3 linked regions of the Homo sapiens genome follow. The protein of the gene in region 1 purifies or fractionates together with the protein of each later gene. This does not show direct contact. Each region holds a gene or a part of one and is shown on either strand. Other genes may lie near its edges.

Region 1 (3,751 bases):
TTTATAAAACCTAAAATTTATCATTGTAGTACCAGTAATAGGAGATGAAATAACTAATATATAATTTTTCATCATGTTAGAGTGCCTTGGAACATAAGTATTATTAATTAGTTTCTTGTCTGAAGAAATTGTATAGTAGTACAGAGCAGTGCAATCTCTTTTTCTGAATTACTGGGATGAACCAATTGAAACTAGATGCCAAGAAACAAAGAAAACCAAAATATATTTCAAAAGTGTACTTATCTCATGTAGTCTTCCACAGAGTAATATGACAGAATTAAGATTTTGTGGGATCCTTAAAGTTGAGATAGTTCATTAATTTTTAAAATTTTTGTATCTATTTGTAACTCCAAGTGTACTAAATAATGCTTGATATGTTATATGTTAAATAAGTAATTTACTATTCTGTTTAGGAAATAATAGAATAAATATAACTGAAACTGGACAGCTGATGGTGAAAGATTTTTTGGAGCCTTTGTCTGGACTTTACACATGTACTCTTTCTTATAAGACTGTTAAAGCAGAAACTCAAGAAGAAAAAACAGTCAAAAAGAGATATGACTTTATGGTCTTTGGTAAGAATTTAGGCACATTTTAACTTATACATTTAGTTTGGATCGTAATTAAGTGTATGGTTTCTTCATTTAATGAAAATGAGTCTGTAATAGGTGACTGTCACCAATTATGACTTACAAAATATTTTGGGATGTATTTGACTAAGCAAACTCTTAAGTTGACATCAAGATAGTTTATCCTAAATAATCTTCTTTCAGCTCCCTACTTGCCTCTATCTAGATATGTAAGCGCATCTACTTTATCACAATTTAGCAGGTAATTTAAAAACTGATCTTTAATTCTATAAAAGCAAGTTAATGATCCTTTCACTGGGTTGTGCTGACAGCAATGACAATTTCTGTGAATTAAGGCCCTCCCCAAAAAGTCTTTCTTTTTCTTGATACTGTTATCTGTATAGCCAACCCACAGAAGCCATTTCTCTTGTTGTACCAAGTAGATAATGTATCAGATGAAAATAACATTTTTCATTAAAGTTAATAGTTTTATGTATTTTTGTGAGGACTAACTGATAAAACGTTATGTTTCTATGCTGACTGCAAGATTGATGGGATTTAGTATTACATAGTATTTGAAAATTGTTTGGTAGAGGAAATTAATGCTAGGTACGATTGTTTTCACTCTCATCTTTCTTTTTTTTTTAAAGCCTATCGGGAACCTGATTATTCATATCAGATGGCTGTACGTTTTACCACAAGGTCTTGTATAGGGAGATACAATGATGTATTCTTTAGAGTGCTGAAGAAAATCTTGGATAGTCTAATTTCTGATTTGTCATGCCATGTCATAGAGCCATCATATAAATGCCATTCTGTTGAAATTCCAGAACATGGCCTCATACATGAGCTATTTATAGCATTTCAAGGTAAAATTTTTAAAATTTCTTTAATTTTGAATTTAGTCCTGAACCATAATAGATTACAAAATTACCATATTAATATAAGATATTTTAAAAGTAATAGGTCTTACATGTTTGTTAAGCACTAAAGTATGTAGTTGACCTTAGCCTGTTTATGGTTTTAAAACTTAACACACTAATTAATTACTTTCAAATATGACATATTGTTGCTTCTTAAAAATCAATATTTTATTAATACAGCCTTTATGCAGCTAATATTTCACTTATAACTTCTTACAGAATTTTAAATTGTATTTTTGAAAACTTAGTAAAAGTGAATAATCAAACCAAATTTATTTCTATTCATTTTAAAGCCTTGTAGTTACTTACATTAGCCCCCAGATGCAGTGAAACCATCAAGTATAAATTATTCAAATTGTGCACCTTGTTTTATTACTAGGATTAGATAGCTGGACTAAACATGTGCCTGCATGCACATGGAATTCAGCACTTGGACCTTTATTGAAATGTTTGGAACTTTTCAGAATCCCTTTGTGAGTCTATCATTTTTTTTCTCTTCAGTTAATCCTTTTGCGCCGGGGTGGAAAGGTGCTTGCAATGGATCTGTTGACTGTGAAGATACCACTAATCATAATATCCTCCAGGTGAGAATTTCATGGTAAGGAAGAAGTATTTGTCTTTTTCTTTTTTTAGAGACAGGGTGTCACCCAGGCTGGAGTGCAGTGGTGCGACCATAGCTCACTGCAGCCTCAAACTCCTGGGCTCAAGTGATCTTCCTCCCTCAGCCAAGGAGGAAGTATTTGAAAATCAATAAAGCTATTTAAAACATTTTTGTAAATACTTCGTTATATTGAAACGTTTCTTTAAAAACCTATTTCTCCATCTTGTGAATATTTATCAATAATAAAATCATTTCTAAGGAGGAAAAATTATTTTTTAAAAAACGAATATAAAGTATTAATAATATTGATTTTTTAAGTATTATTGATTTTTGGTTTCAGTTTTTTAAACTGAGATTATGAGATTCTTAGTTATTTCAAGATGTGATTTTTTTTTCTTTCTCAAAAGAGAGCTGGAGTATCAAGATGTGTTATTTTGGAGTAGCACATCTGTAATATTAGATAGTTCCCAAGGTTAGTATTATGTATTTTATCTATGACAGAAGGATAGATCCCTGGTCTTTGTTCCCCAAATGATGATTAAATAGTGGCTTAAAGAACAACTTCACAAACATGTCACCCTACGTTAAGCCAATGGTGCTTCCAAAATTATATCTATATTGGTCATACTAGTTGCTCTCCCCTCTACCATCCTCAGAGGCAAAGGACATAGTCTTAAAAATCCCTTCACTCTCTGGTCTAGTTCCTGAGCTCATGTCCTTAATTGTTATTGTGCATGGCTTATGAGAAGCACTTAGTTAAAATTAGTTATTATTAAATTCTGTGCTCAAAAACCCAAAATTTACATCATCGGTTTATAATGCTGATTAAAGAAAAGTCTTTTTTTTTTTTTTTTTTTTTGAGACGGAGTCTTGCTCTGTTGCCCAGGCTGGAGTGCAGTGGTGGCCATCTCAGCTCACTGCAACCTCCACCTCCCAGGTTCAAGCAATTCTCCTGCCTCAGCCTCCCAAGTAACTGGGACTAAAGGTGCACACCACCACACCCACACCCGGCTAATTTTTTGTGTTTTTATCAGAGACGGGGTTTCACCATGTTGGCTAGGTTGGTCTCAAACTCCTGACCTCAAGTCATCTGCACATATCTGCCTCCCAAAGTGCTGGGATCACAGGTGTGAGCCACCACGCCCAGCCAAGAAAAGTCTTGCTTTCCATTTTGCTTGGCTCTTTTTCTTTGATGATCATGGAAATTAGATATAATGAACGCCCAATTATCTACATATGGGATAGACATTGCAAATAATTCAAAACAAGTTTTTTAATCTTATTTTTTCTTTTCATTTTATTTTGTTTTGTTTTTGAGATGGAGTCTCATTCTGTCACCCAGGCTGCTGTGCAATCTCAGCTCACTGCAACCTCTGCCTCTGGATTCAAGTGATTCTTGTGCCTCAGCTTCCCGAGTAGCTGGGATTACAGGTGCCTGCCACTACCCCTGGCTAAGTTTTGTATTTTTTATTAGAGACGAGGTTTCACCATGTTGGCCAGGCTAGTCTCGAACTCGTGGCCTCAAGTGATCCGCCCACCTCTGCCTCCCAAAGTGCTGGGATCACAGGCGTGAGCCACCACGCCCAGCCTAATCTTAATTTTAATTTTTATTTATTTATTTTTTCTGAGACGGGGTCTCGCTCTGTCGCCAGGCTGGA
Region 2 (3,751 bases), on another chromosome or scaffold:
TCATCAGCCATCTCTCCAGAGCTCAAGCTCTCTTGGTCTCTCTCCTTACCCGTGGCTTTCAGGACAAAGGACTCTGAGAATCCGGGACTTGAGAAGGCAACATAGGGTGGGTGAGAGACTTGGGGAGGAATTTCCATGACCAGACCAAAGTTTGAGGGAGAGCACGGAATACGAAAGAGGACTAGGCAGCCTGGATGTCTGGGGTGGGGGTGGAGAGGTAACCACTCTGAGAGGTGACCACCCCTCAACTCTGCCGTCCTGCCAGGAAATAACAATAAAACCAGCAGCTACAATTAACCGTGACCTTCTATGCACCAGGTACTCTACCCAAGATGATACTCAACCCTAGGAGGTGGGATCCTCTGTCTGTTTTACAAATGAGATGGAGGCTCATGAGAGAAGCCTGAGTCCCCAGACATAGGGATGTGGGAATCCTGGCTTCACATCCCATGGTCCTGGTAGAATGGGATGGGGAATAGACAAGTCACCTATTTAGAGGATATTTGGGATCCTGCTCTGTGGATGTGTGGTTAGGAGGTGGGGTGAGTAGGAAGGAGGCCAGAGCAAGCAACTGGGCCCTAATGAGCCAGGTATCTCCCTAGCCCCCAACCGTTATCCTCTCTGCTTCAGGGCCTTCACGATCTCTTTCTCCACTGTCACTTCTTGTGGGGGGATCTGCGCAAAGGTTGGGAATGGAGACGGGGAAGCCCAACCAGCTGTTTTCCACCTGGCCCTGCCACACCAGAGAGCAAAGGGGCCCTGCAAGTGCAGGCTGGGTGTCAGGAGTCAATCCTGGAGTCCAGGTGACAGCAAAACAGGGGCCAGTTAACCTGCAGACAGAGGTCCAGCTGGCCCACTGGGTCCCCATAACCCCAGCCTTACCCTGAGAAAACTGAGCCCGACATGTGTAAAAAGATATGGCTGGGGGGAAGGCAGGACAAGTTATTTTGTGAGGTTAGAGGGGAAGGGGCCTTGTGAAATCAAGGTCTGGAAAGGGCTGCCCAGGAGAGGAGGCAACTGAGAGTTGAGGCTGACACCTTAGAGGAGAAGATGACCATATGGTTCTCCAAGAACCAGGCATGAATCTGTATGGCACTTGCCAGTTGCTTGGTTTAAGGCTAAAGAGACAGACCCCTTCCCCTCTTCCAGGACTCCCTGTGCCCTCCTCCCCATCCCCAGTTCTTCTCTCCACCTTCTCCTCCCGAAAAGATGCATCCAGCCCTACCCCTCCCCAGTGCCCAGCACATCCCCTCCCCCATCTAGTGATCCCCAGTCCTTAGACCGAGCACACCAGCTCCTGTGAATATCCTGTCTCCCTCACTGGCTCGTATTGACTGGCATCTTAGTCTTCCACCAAACTAGTCAGTTCTTCCCATAGTCTAACCTCCATTCCTTCAGTTACAGCAGCTCGTTTTCAGTATCCTGCCAATAGTGAAATTAGAAACCAACCCTATCTGTAAACAAGCCACCCCACCAAAGGAGTTTCTCTCTCCCTCCCCAGGCATTTTCCCCTTGCAGGCCTTTCACCTACTTTACCATCCCCTAATTTAGCAAGCAGAAAGAGAACTCGATTTCACAAGCAGGATTGGCTCCCCACCATCGTTATTCCTTTTGTCGAGTCCCAGATGGTCCTCTCTCCCCAAGCCCTCCACCCACTCCCACAGGCACTTCGAGAGAAACGCGCCCTCCGGAGACCCTCTGAAGTCTTCAGTTTCCTCTCCCTGGCACTGAGGGAACACAGGACGGGTGTGCAGACTTCGTATTTCCCTCCAAGTTTTTACCTCCGCCTAGTGTTTTCCTTGCAAAGGAAAGTCCCTCTCGAAGTCTAACCTTAATCCCTCCTGCTGCATGCCTAAATCCCCTTTCCATCTTTTCTCTATAATACAACCCCCTTTAAAATCATAAATGCAATCTTCCTCTCGCGTTTAGTCTCCTCTCCTGCAGCGCCCCTCTACTTTCCTAGCCCCAACAACCTGCTCCGGCTAGGAGAAGTTCTTCCTAGCCACTCCCCACCCCAACGCCCTGCCCAAAACTCCGAGGACACTGAGGTATCTGCCTGAGCTGTCCACTACGACGGCTCCCGGGCCACGCCCGGACTCGGCGGCCCGCGGGGCGGTGACCCCCGCAGCCGCCGGTGCAGCCACGACGGGGTTAAGGTTCCGGGCTGGGGGAGGGGGAGGGGGCCGGGAGGGGCGGGTGCGGAGCCAATCGGCGGCGGCAGAGTCCCCGGAGCCGCGAGCTGGGAGCGCTGTGCCGGGAGCCGGGAGCCGAGCGCGCCGGGCTGGGGCCGGGGCCGGAGCGGAGCGGAGAGGGAGCGCGCCCGCCCCAGCCCCGAGTCCCGCCGCCTTCCCTCCCGCCGCAGCGCGGGCCCACCGGCCGCCGCCCCAGCCATGGAGCAAGACAACAGCCCCCGAAAGATCCAGTTCACGGTCCCGCTGCTGGAGCCGCACCTTGACCCCGAGGCGGCGGAGCAGGTGCGGAGCAGGGCGGGGCGGCAGGGCACTCGCCCAGCCAAGGACGAGGGACCCCTGGACTGGTGGGACCCAGGATCCCTGCCTAGTCCTCCCTTAGCAGTGCGCCCTTTTGAGGACGAACGCTCAGTTTGCGGGGGGCGGGGGGGGGTCTTCTGTCCCCTCCCCCACCGTCGGAGCCACATCTCGAATCTGTGCTTCTTTGAGACTGACCGAAGGAAGAGCGCCTCCACTCGATGCCTGGCCCCGCGAGAGTCGCTCTCTTCCTCCCCAGTCCTGGGGGAGGGGGCCTGCTTGAGGACACGACCCCTCCCTCCTTAAACAACCCTGCATCCCCCACCCAGTCAACCCCCACTAGAGTTTCTGAGCTTGGTGGTGGCGCTGAAGGGAATCAGCAGCAGTGCGGGAGGGGCCTGGGGAGGGGTCGGTAATGGAGAGGGAGCCTGGAAGGGTGGGAGTTGGAAGAGGAGAAACAGCTCTCCCTGTCCCCTCCTAACTGGGGGCCACCTTGCTGGGCTCCGAAAGTGATAACAGGAAGGGACTGAGGACCACTGAGAGGGCTGGGGCTCCAGGGAGAGGGGAGAGGGGTGGTCGAGTTGTAGGCTGAGGCTCCCTTCTTCAAGTCTCCGCACATGGCCCTTATTCCCAACTCCTGCCCTTTGGAGTGGGGAGTCCAGGTGGGACTGAGCCAGCAGCACTGGGAGGCCAGAGGTGGAGTCTTTCCAGGGGCTGGGGTCCAAGCTGAACAATATGCAAGGGAGAAGCACTGTGACAGCCTTGGCTCAAGGGGTGGGAGTCCAGGGCCCTGGCCCAGCCTCCTAGCCTGGTCTATTTTTAGCTCAGAGCAGCCTGGCAGAGGGGGCAGTGTATGAGAGTGTGTGAGCAAGTGTATGCCTCGGTGAGAGTGAGCGTATGTGTGGAGAGGGTGGCCACCCGTGGTCCTTACTACTCCTTGTTTGCCAAATATTTGCTTATTTGCCTATTGCTCCATCTCTTTGTAATCTCTGTCCATTTGCCTAGACATTCCCATTCCTAAAGAATATCAATTTCCCACAAGGTCAGTTCTCTGTTTCTCTCAACAAGCTGCCAGGCTCTGGCTGGCCACCCCCAACCTGAAAAAAACTTTGTGACCTCTTGGGATGAGGTGGAGAGAGTGTTTTTTGTCATTTTTGTTGCTCCAGCTGTTTGGTAGAATAAGGTCTGATGTGAAGGGAAGCGGGCAGGGGTACACACTCTCCCTACCACTTCAGCTTCCCAATGTGGAGATAGGGTTAGGTACC
Region 3 (3,751 bases), on another chromosome or scaffold:
TTTATCGTGTTGGCCAGGCTGGTCTAGAACTCCTGACCTCAGGTGATCCACCCGCCTCGGCCTCCCAAAGTGCTGGGATTACAGGTGTGAGCCACCGTGCCAGCCATTAATTTTTTTTTTTTTTTTTTGTACAGGCCAGGCTGGTCTCGAACTCCTGGGCTCAAGTGATCCTCCCACCTCGGCCTCCCAAAGGGCTGATGTGAGCCACCACACCCGGCCCTACATCCACTCCTGAGACACAGGACACAATCACAGACACCTCTATACCTTTCCAGTCACAATATCTTTCCAGTCACAATCACACACCCGCTAAGACACACCCAGTCACACAATCTACTCTCCACTGTGATACAGTTACTCCCGTATAGTCACAAGCCCCACACACCAACACCCACAAATGCCTCATATAGTCACAGTCACACACCCACTCAGGGGACACACGCCATCACTGGTACTTTACGGCACCCAGTCACAACTGAACTTTCACTGTGGACATACACACAGTCACACTCACACAAGCAACCCACACAAGCAGTGGCACCCCACTCCCGCATACACAGCACCACACACATACACACAAACACACACACCAAGGGATACAGGAATACACAAGCGGCGTCACCACACAGTCACAGGCACAGGCAATTGCACACGGCCACAGTGTCACACAACCAAAACCACGCACACACCTTGGAGACATGAATCACAACCGCACACCCGCAGTGGTCACACAGTCACAACTGTACTCACACCCCAGGAACAGGGCGAACAGGCCACATATACAACGGGGACACACGCAGTATCACCCCCGGTCACAAGGACCCTGCACCCCGATACTCTCTATCACACATGGTTACACAAAAACCACCAGACACCCTGGAGACAGGCGGTTACACGTGCACAGTTGCAGACACCCACACCCAGCCACACAGCCACAAAGACACATTCAGAACGGCGCATCCGCAGCCAGCTCCCGCCTGCGCGCACAGATTCGAGGCTCCGGACACGCCCCGGCCCCGCCCAGGACTCCCAGACCCCTCACCTTCTGCCTCCCCTGGTCGCGTCCGGGTCCTTGCGGAGCTAACTAGCTCGCCACGACGTCAAGAACGACGTAACGTCAGGCCGCTGTGGGCTCTGGGAATTGTAGTCCAGAGCTAGATCGGCCACGGACAGAATGGCGTTCTCTTATCTCTGAGTCGGGGCCTGGCTCGTTTTGACATTTTTGCGCCCACGAGTCTTCGGAGAGGGCGTCGCCACTCCAGACCTTCCAGCAAGCTTGAAGTCATCTGACGCTAAAGGACTACTTACCTCAAGAGCTCCATCGTCACAGAAGGAGGCGGCCAAGTTCGCGGGGGGAGGGGAGGAGACAGAGAGTCGACCAGTAAAGCCTCAAGGGAAATGTAGTCCAAGGCCTGAGAAGCGACGTTGCTGGTAATAGAAGGTAATTCAGTACCAGCCTGGGCCTGGCCGCGGTGACCGAGGCGGGCCGCGTCGCGGAGACTTCTGGGAGTGCTTCCTCGCTCTCCGAGTGCGCAAGCGCAGCGCACCGAGTGGACATTTTGGTCTTTGTCCGCGGGTCAGTACGGCCCCTGGGTCCACGTGGCGCGAAAGTAGGAGGTGGGATCTGGGCGTCTCGGGTCGGTCGGACCGGGGAGGTTAAAGGGGAGGATTCCTGATCTTTAGGGGCGCGGCGCGAGGGCAGGGAGTGGGTGTAAGAGCTTCTGGCCTACGTGCGGGGCGGAGATGGGGGCCTCTGAGGCGGGTTTGAGCGAGTGTGACCGAGTTTGTCCTCAAAGTTTGACCTGATGTTTGGGATTGTTGAGTGAATGTGAAACTGGGTGCGGGATTGTGTGTGATTGTGCCTAAGAGGGAGATGTAGGAGACCAGCATTGAGGTATAACGTTTGAGCTGCACTTCCCTTGTCGAAAGTGCTGATAATTATAACGGTGCCATCTTCCTGGAGCGTCTTTTTTACTTGAAAATTGAAGGGGTGGAAAAGCTAAGTGGTGAATAATTTTAAAACGAGTTTTTATATAAAAGCATTTCTTTTTAATTGGAGTGGCATGCAAATCACCGTGACTTTTTTTTTTAATTAAACGAGAGTGTTTCGAAGGAACTTTAGTTTCGGGGTGCCTACTTCAGACTATTCAAATCCCCATCTTTGGGGTACTTAAATAGGGCTGTTAAGCAAAGCCCTAGACTAAACAGCATTGTACGCTTTGAGAAGCAATCCCATATAACGGCGCCCAGGATGAGGGAGTCAACGGTTTTAGGTTAGGCACAGTTATCCTCATTTTTTGAAGAAAGCTTAATTGTTGCAGTGTTTATCTATGAGTCTGGACTAAATCCTAGGTGTCTTAATTCCTTAATGAGTCGAGGCGTTCTCAGGTTGTATGGATTTTGTGAAGTAATGGAGAATGCTACTGACGTCTCCAAAGATGCGTTTTCTAAGGAAATCACCCCGCCCCCGCTGTCGTCATTGACATAGTTTTAAATTACAAAAAGTTAAATAAAGTAATTGGGTACCAAGTTAATATCTATAAATAAATAGCCTTCTAATTTACAAATATCAGTTAGAATACATAGTTGAAGAAAACTAATATTTACAATAGCAGTAAAAAGATAAAGTATTGTGGAAGAAACTTAAAGGTTCAGAACTATTAGGAAAGAACTTTAAAATACTACTAAGGGGCATAACAAATGTGAACAAATAAATATACCATGTGACATTAAGAAGTGTGCGCAAACTTAAGTGAATGTATTAATTTACTGTGATCTTGGTCGGGTGCGGTGGCTCATGCCTGTAATCCTAGCACTTTGGGAGGCCGAGATGGGTGGATTACCTGAGATCAGGAGTTCGAGAGGAGCCTGGCCAACATGGTGAAACCCTGTCTCTACTAAAAAAAAATAAAATAAAAAAATACAAAAATTAGCCGGGCGTGGTGGCGGGCGCCTGTAATCTGAGCTACCGCGGAGGCTGAGGCAGGAAAATCGCTTGAACCTGGGAGGCGGAGGTTGCAGTGAGCCCAGATCTCGCCACTGCACTCCAGCCTGGACAAGAGCGAGATTCCGTCTCAATAATAGTAATAATGTGATCCTAATAAAAGTATGGACAGGCTTTTCTCTTTTGGAACTAGGGGAACTGATCCTAGACTTACTATGGAAAGAGACAAGCTGCAAGAGCCAGTACAGACTGAGAAAGAAAAGGCGTTGAGGTGTGGGGAGATGGGGACCCAACACATTTTAAATATAAAGCCTCAGGCCGGGCTTGGTGGCTCACACCTGTGAGCCAAGGCAGGAGGATGGCTAGAGTCCAGGAGTTAGAGACCAGCTTGGGCGACATAGTGAGATCTCCCGTAGTCCTAGCTGCTTGGGAGGCTGAGGTGGGAGGATCACTTGAGCCTAGGAGGTCAAGGCTGCAGTGAGCAGAGATCCTGGCGACAGCATTCCAGCTTGGTGGACAGCCAGTCCCTGTCTTTTTTTTTTTTTTTTTTTTTTTTTGAGATGGAGTCTCTCTCTCTTGCCCAGTCTAGAGTGCAGTGGCCCAATCTCTGCTCCCTGCAACCTCTGCCCCCCAGGTTCAAGCGATTCTCTTGGCTCAGCCTCCCGAGTAGCTGGGATTAGTTGCCTGCCACCACACCCGGCTACTTTTTTTGTATTTTTAGTAGAGACAGGGTTTTACCATGTTGGCCAGGCTGGTCTTGAACTCTTGACCTCAAGTGATCGGCCCGCCTCGGCTTCCCAAAGTGCT

What was found.
Region 2: the proteins of ZPBP2 (region 1) and PPP1R1A purify together in Homo sapiens (affinity purification with mass spectrometry; 3 studies listed by BioGRID and IntAct, with this or other methods). This does not show direct contact.
Region 3: the proteins of ZPBP2 (region 1) and ZNF146 purify together in Homo sapiens (affinity purification with mass spectrometry; 3 studies listed by BioGRID and IntAct, with this or other methods). This does not show direct contact.

Annotation. Positions count from the first base shown.
Region 1 is NC_000017.11:39,871,051-39,874,801, forward strand, and holds part of ZPBP2 (zona pellucida-binding protein 2 isoform 2 precursor), read left to right. Parts: intron 1-413; coding exon 414-575; intron 576-1,219; coding exon 1,220-1,438; intron 1,439-1,993; coding exon 1,994-2,076; coding exon of another isoform or gene 2,077-2,090; intron 2,091-3,751.
Region 2 is NC_000012.12:54,587,128-54,590,878, reverse strand, and holds the start of PPP1R1A (protein phosphatase 1 regulatory subunit 1A), read left to right. Parts: upstream 1-2,219; 5' UTR 2,220-2,390; coding exon 2,391-2,474; intron 2,475-3,751. UniProt on the Homo sapiens protein: Inhibitor of protein-phosphatase 1. This protein may be important in hormonal control of glycogen metabolism. Hormones that elevate intracellular cAMP increase I-1 activity in many tissues.
Region 3 is NC_000019.10:36,213,580-36,217,330, forward strand, and holds the start of ZNF146 (zinc finger protein OZF), read left to right. Parts: upstream 1-1,526; 5' UTR 1,527-1,617; intron 1,618-3,751.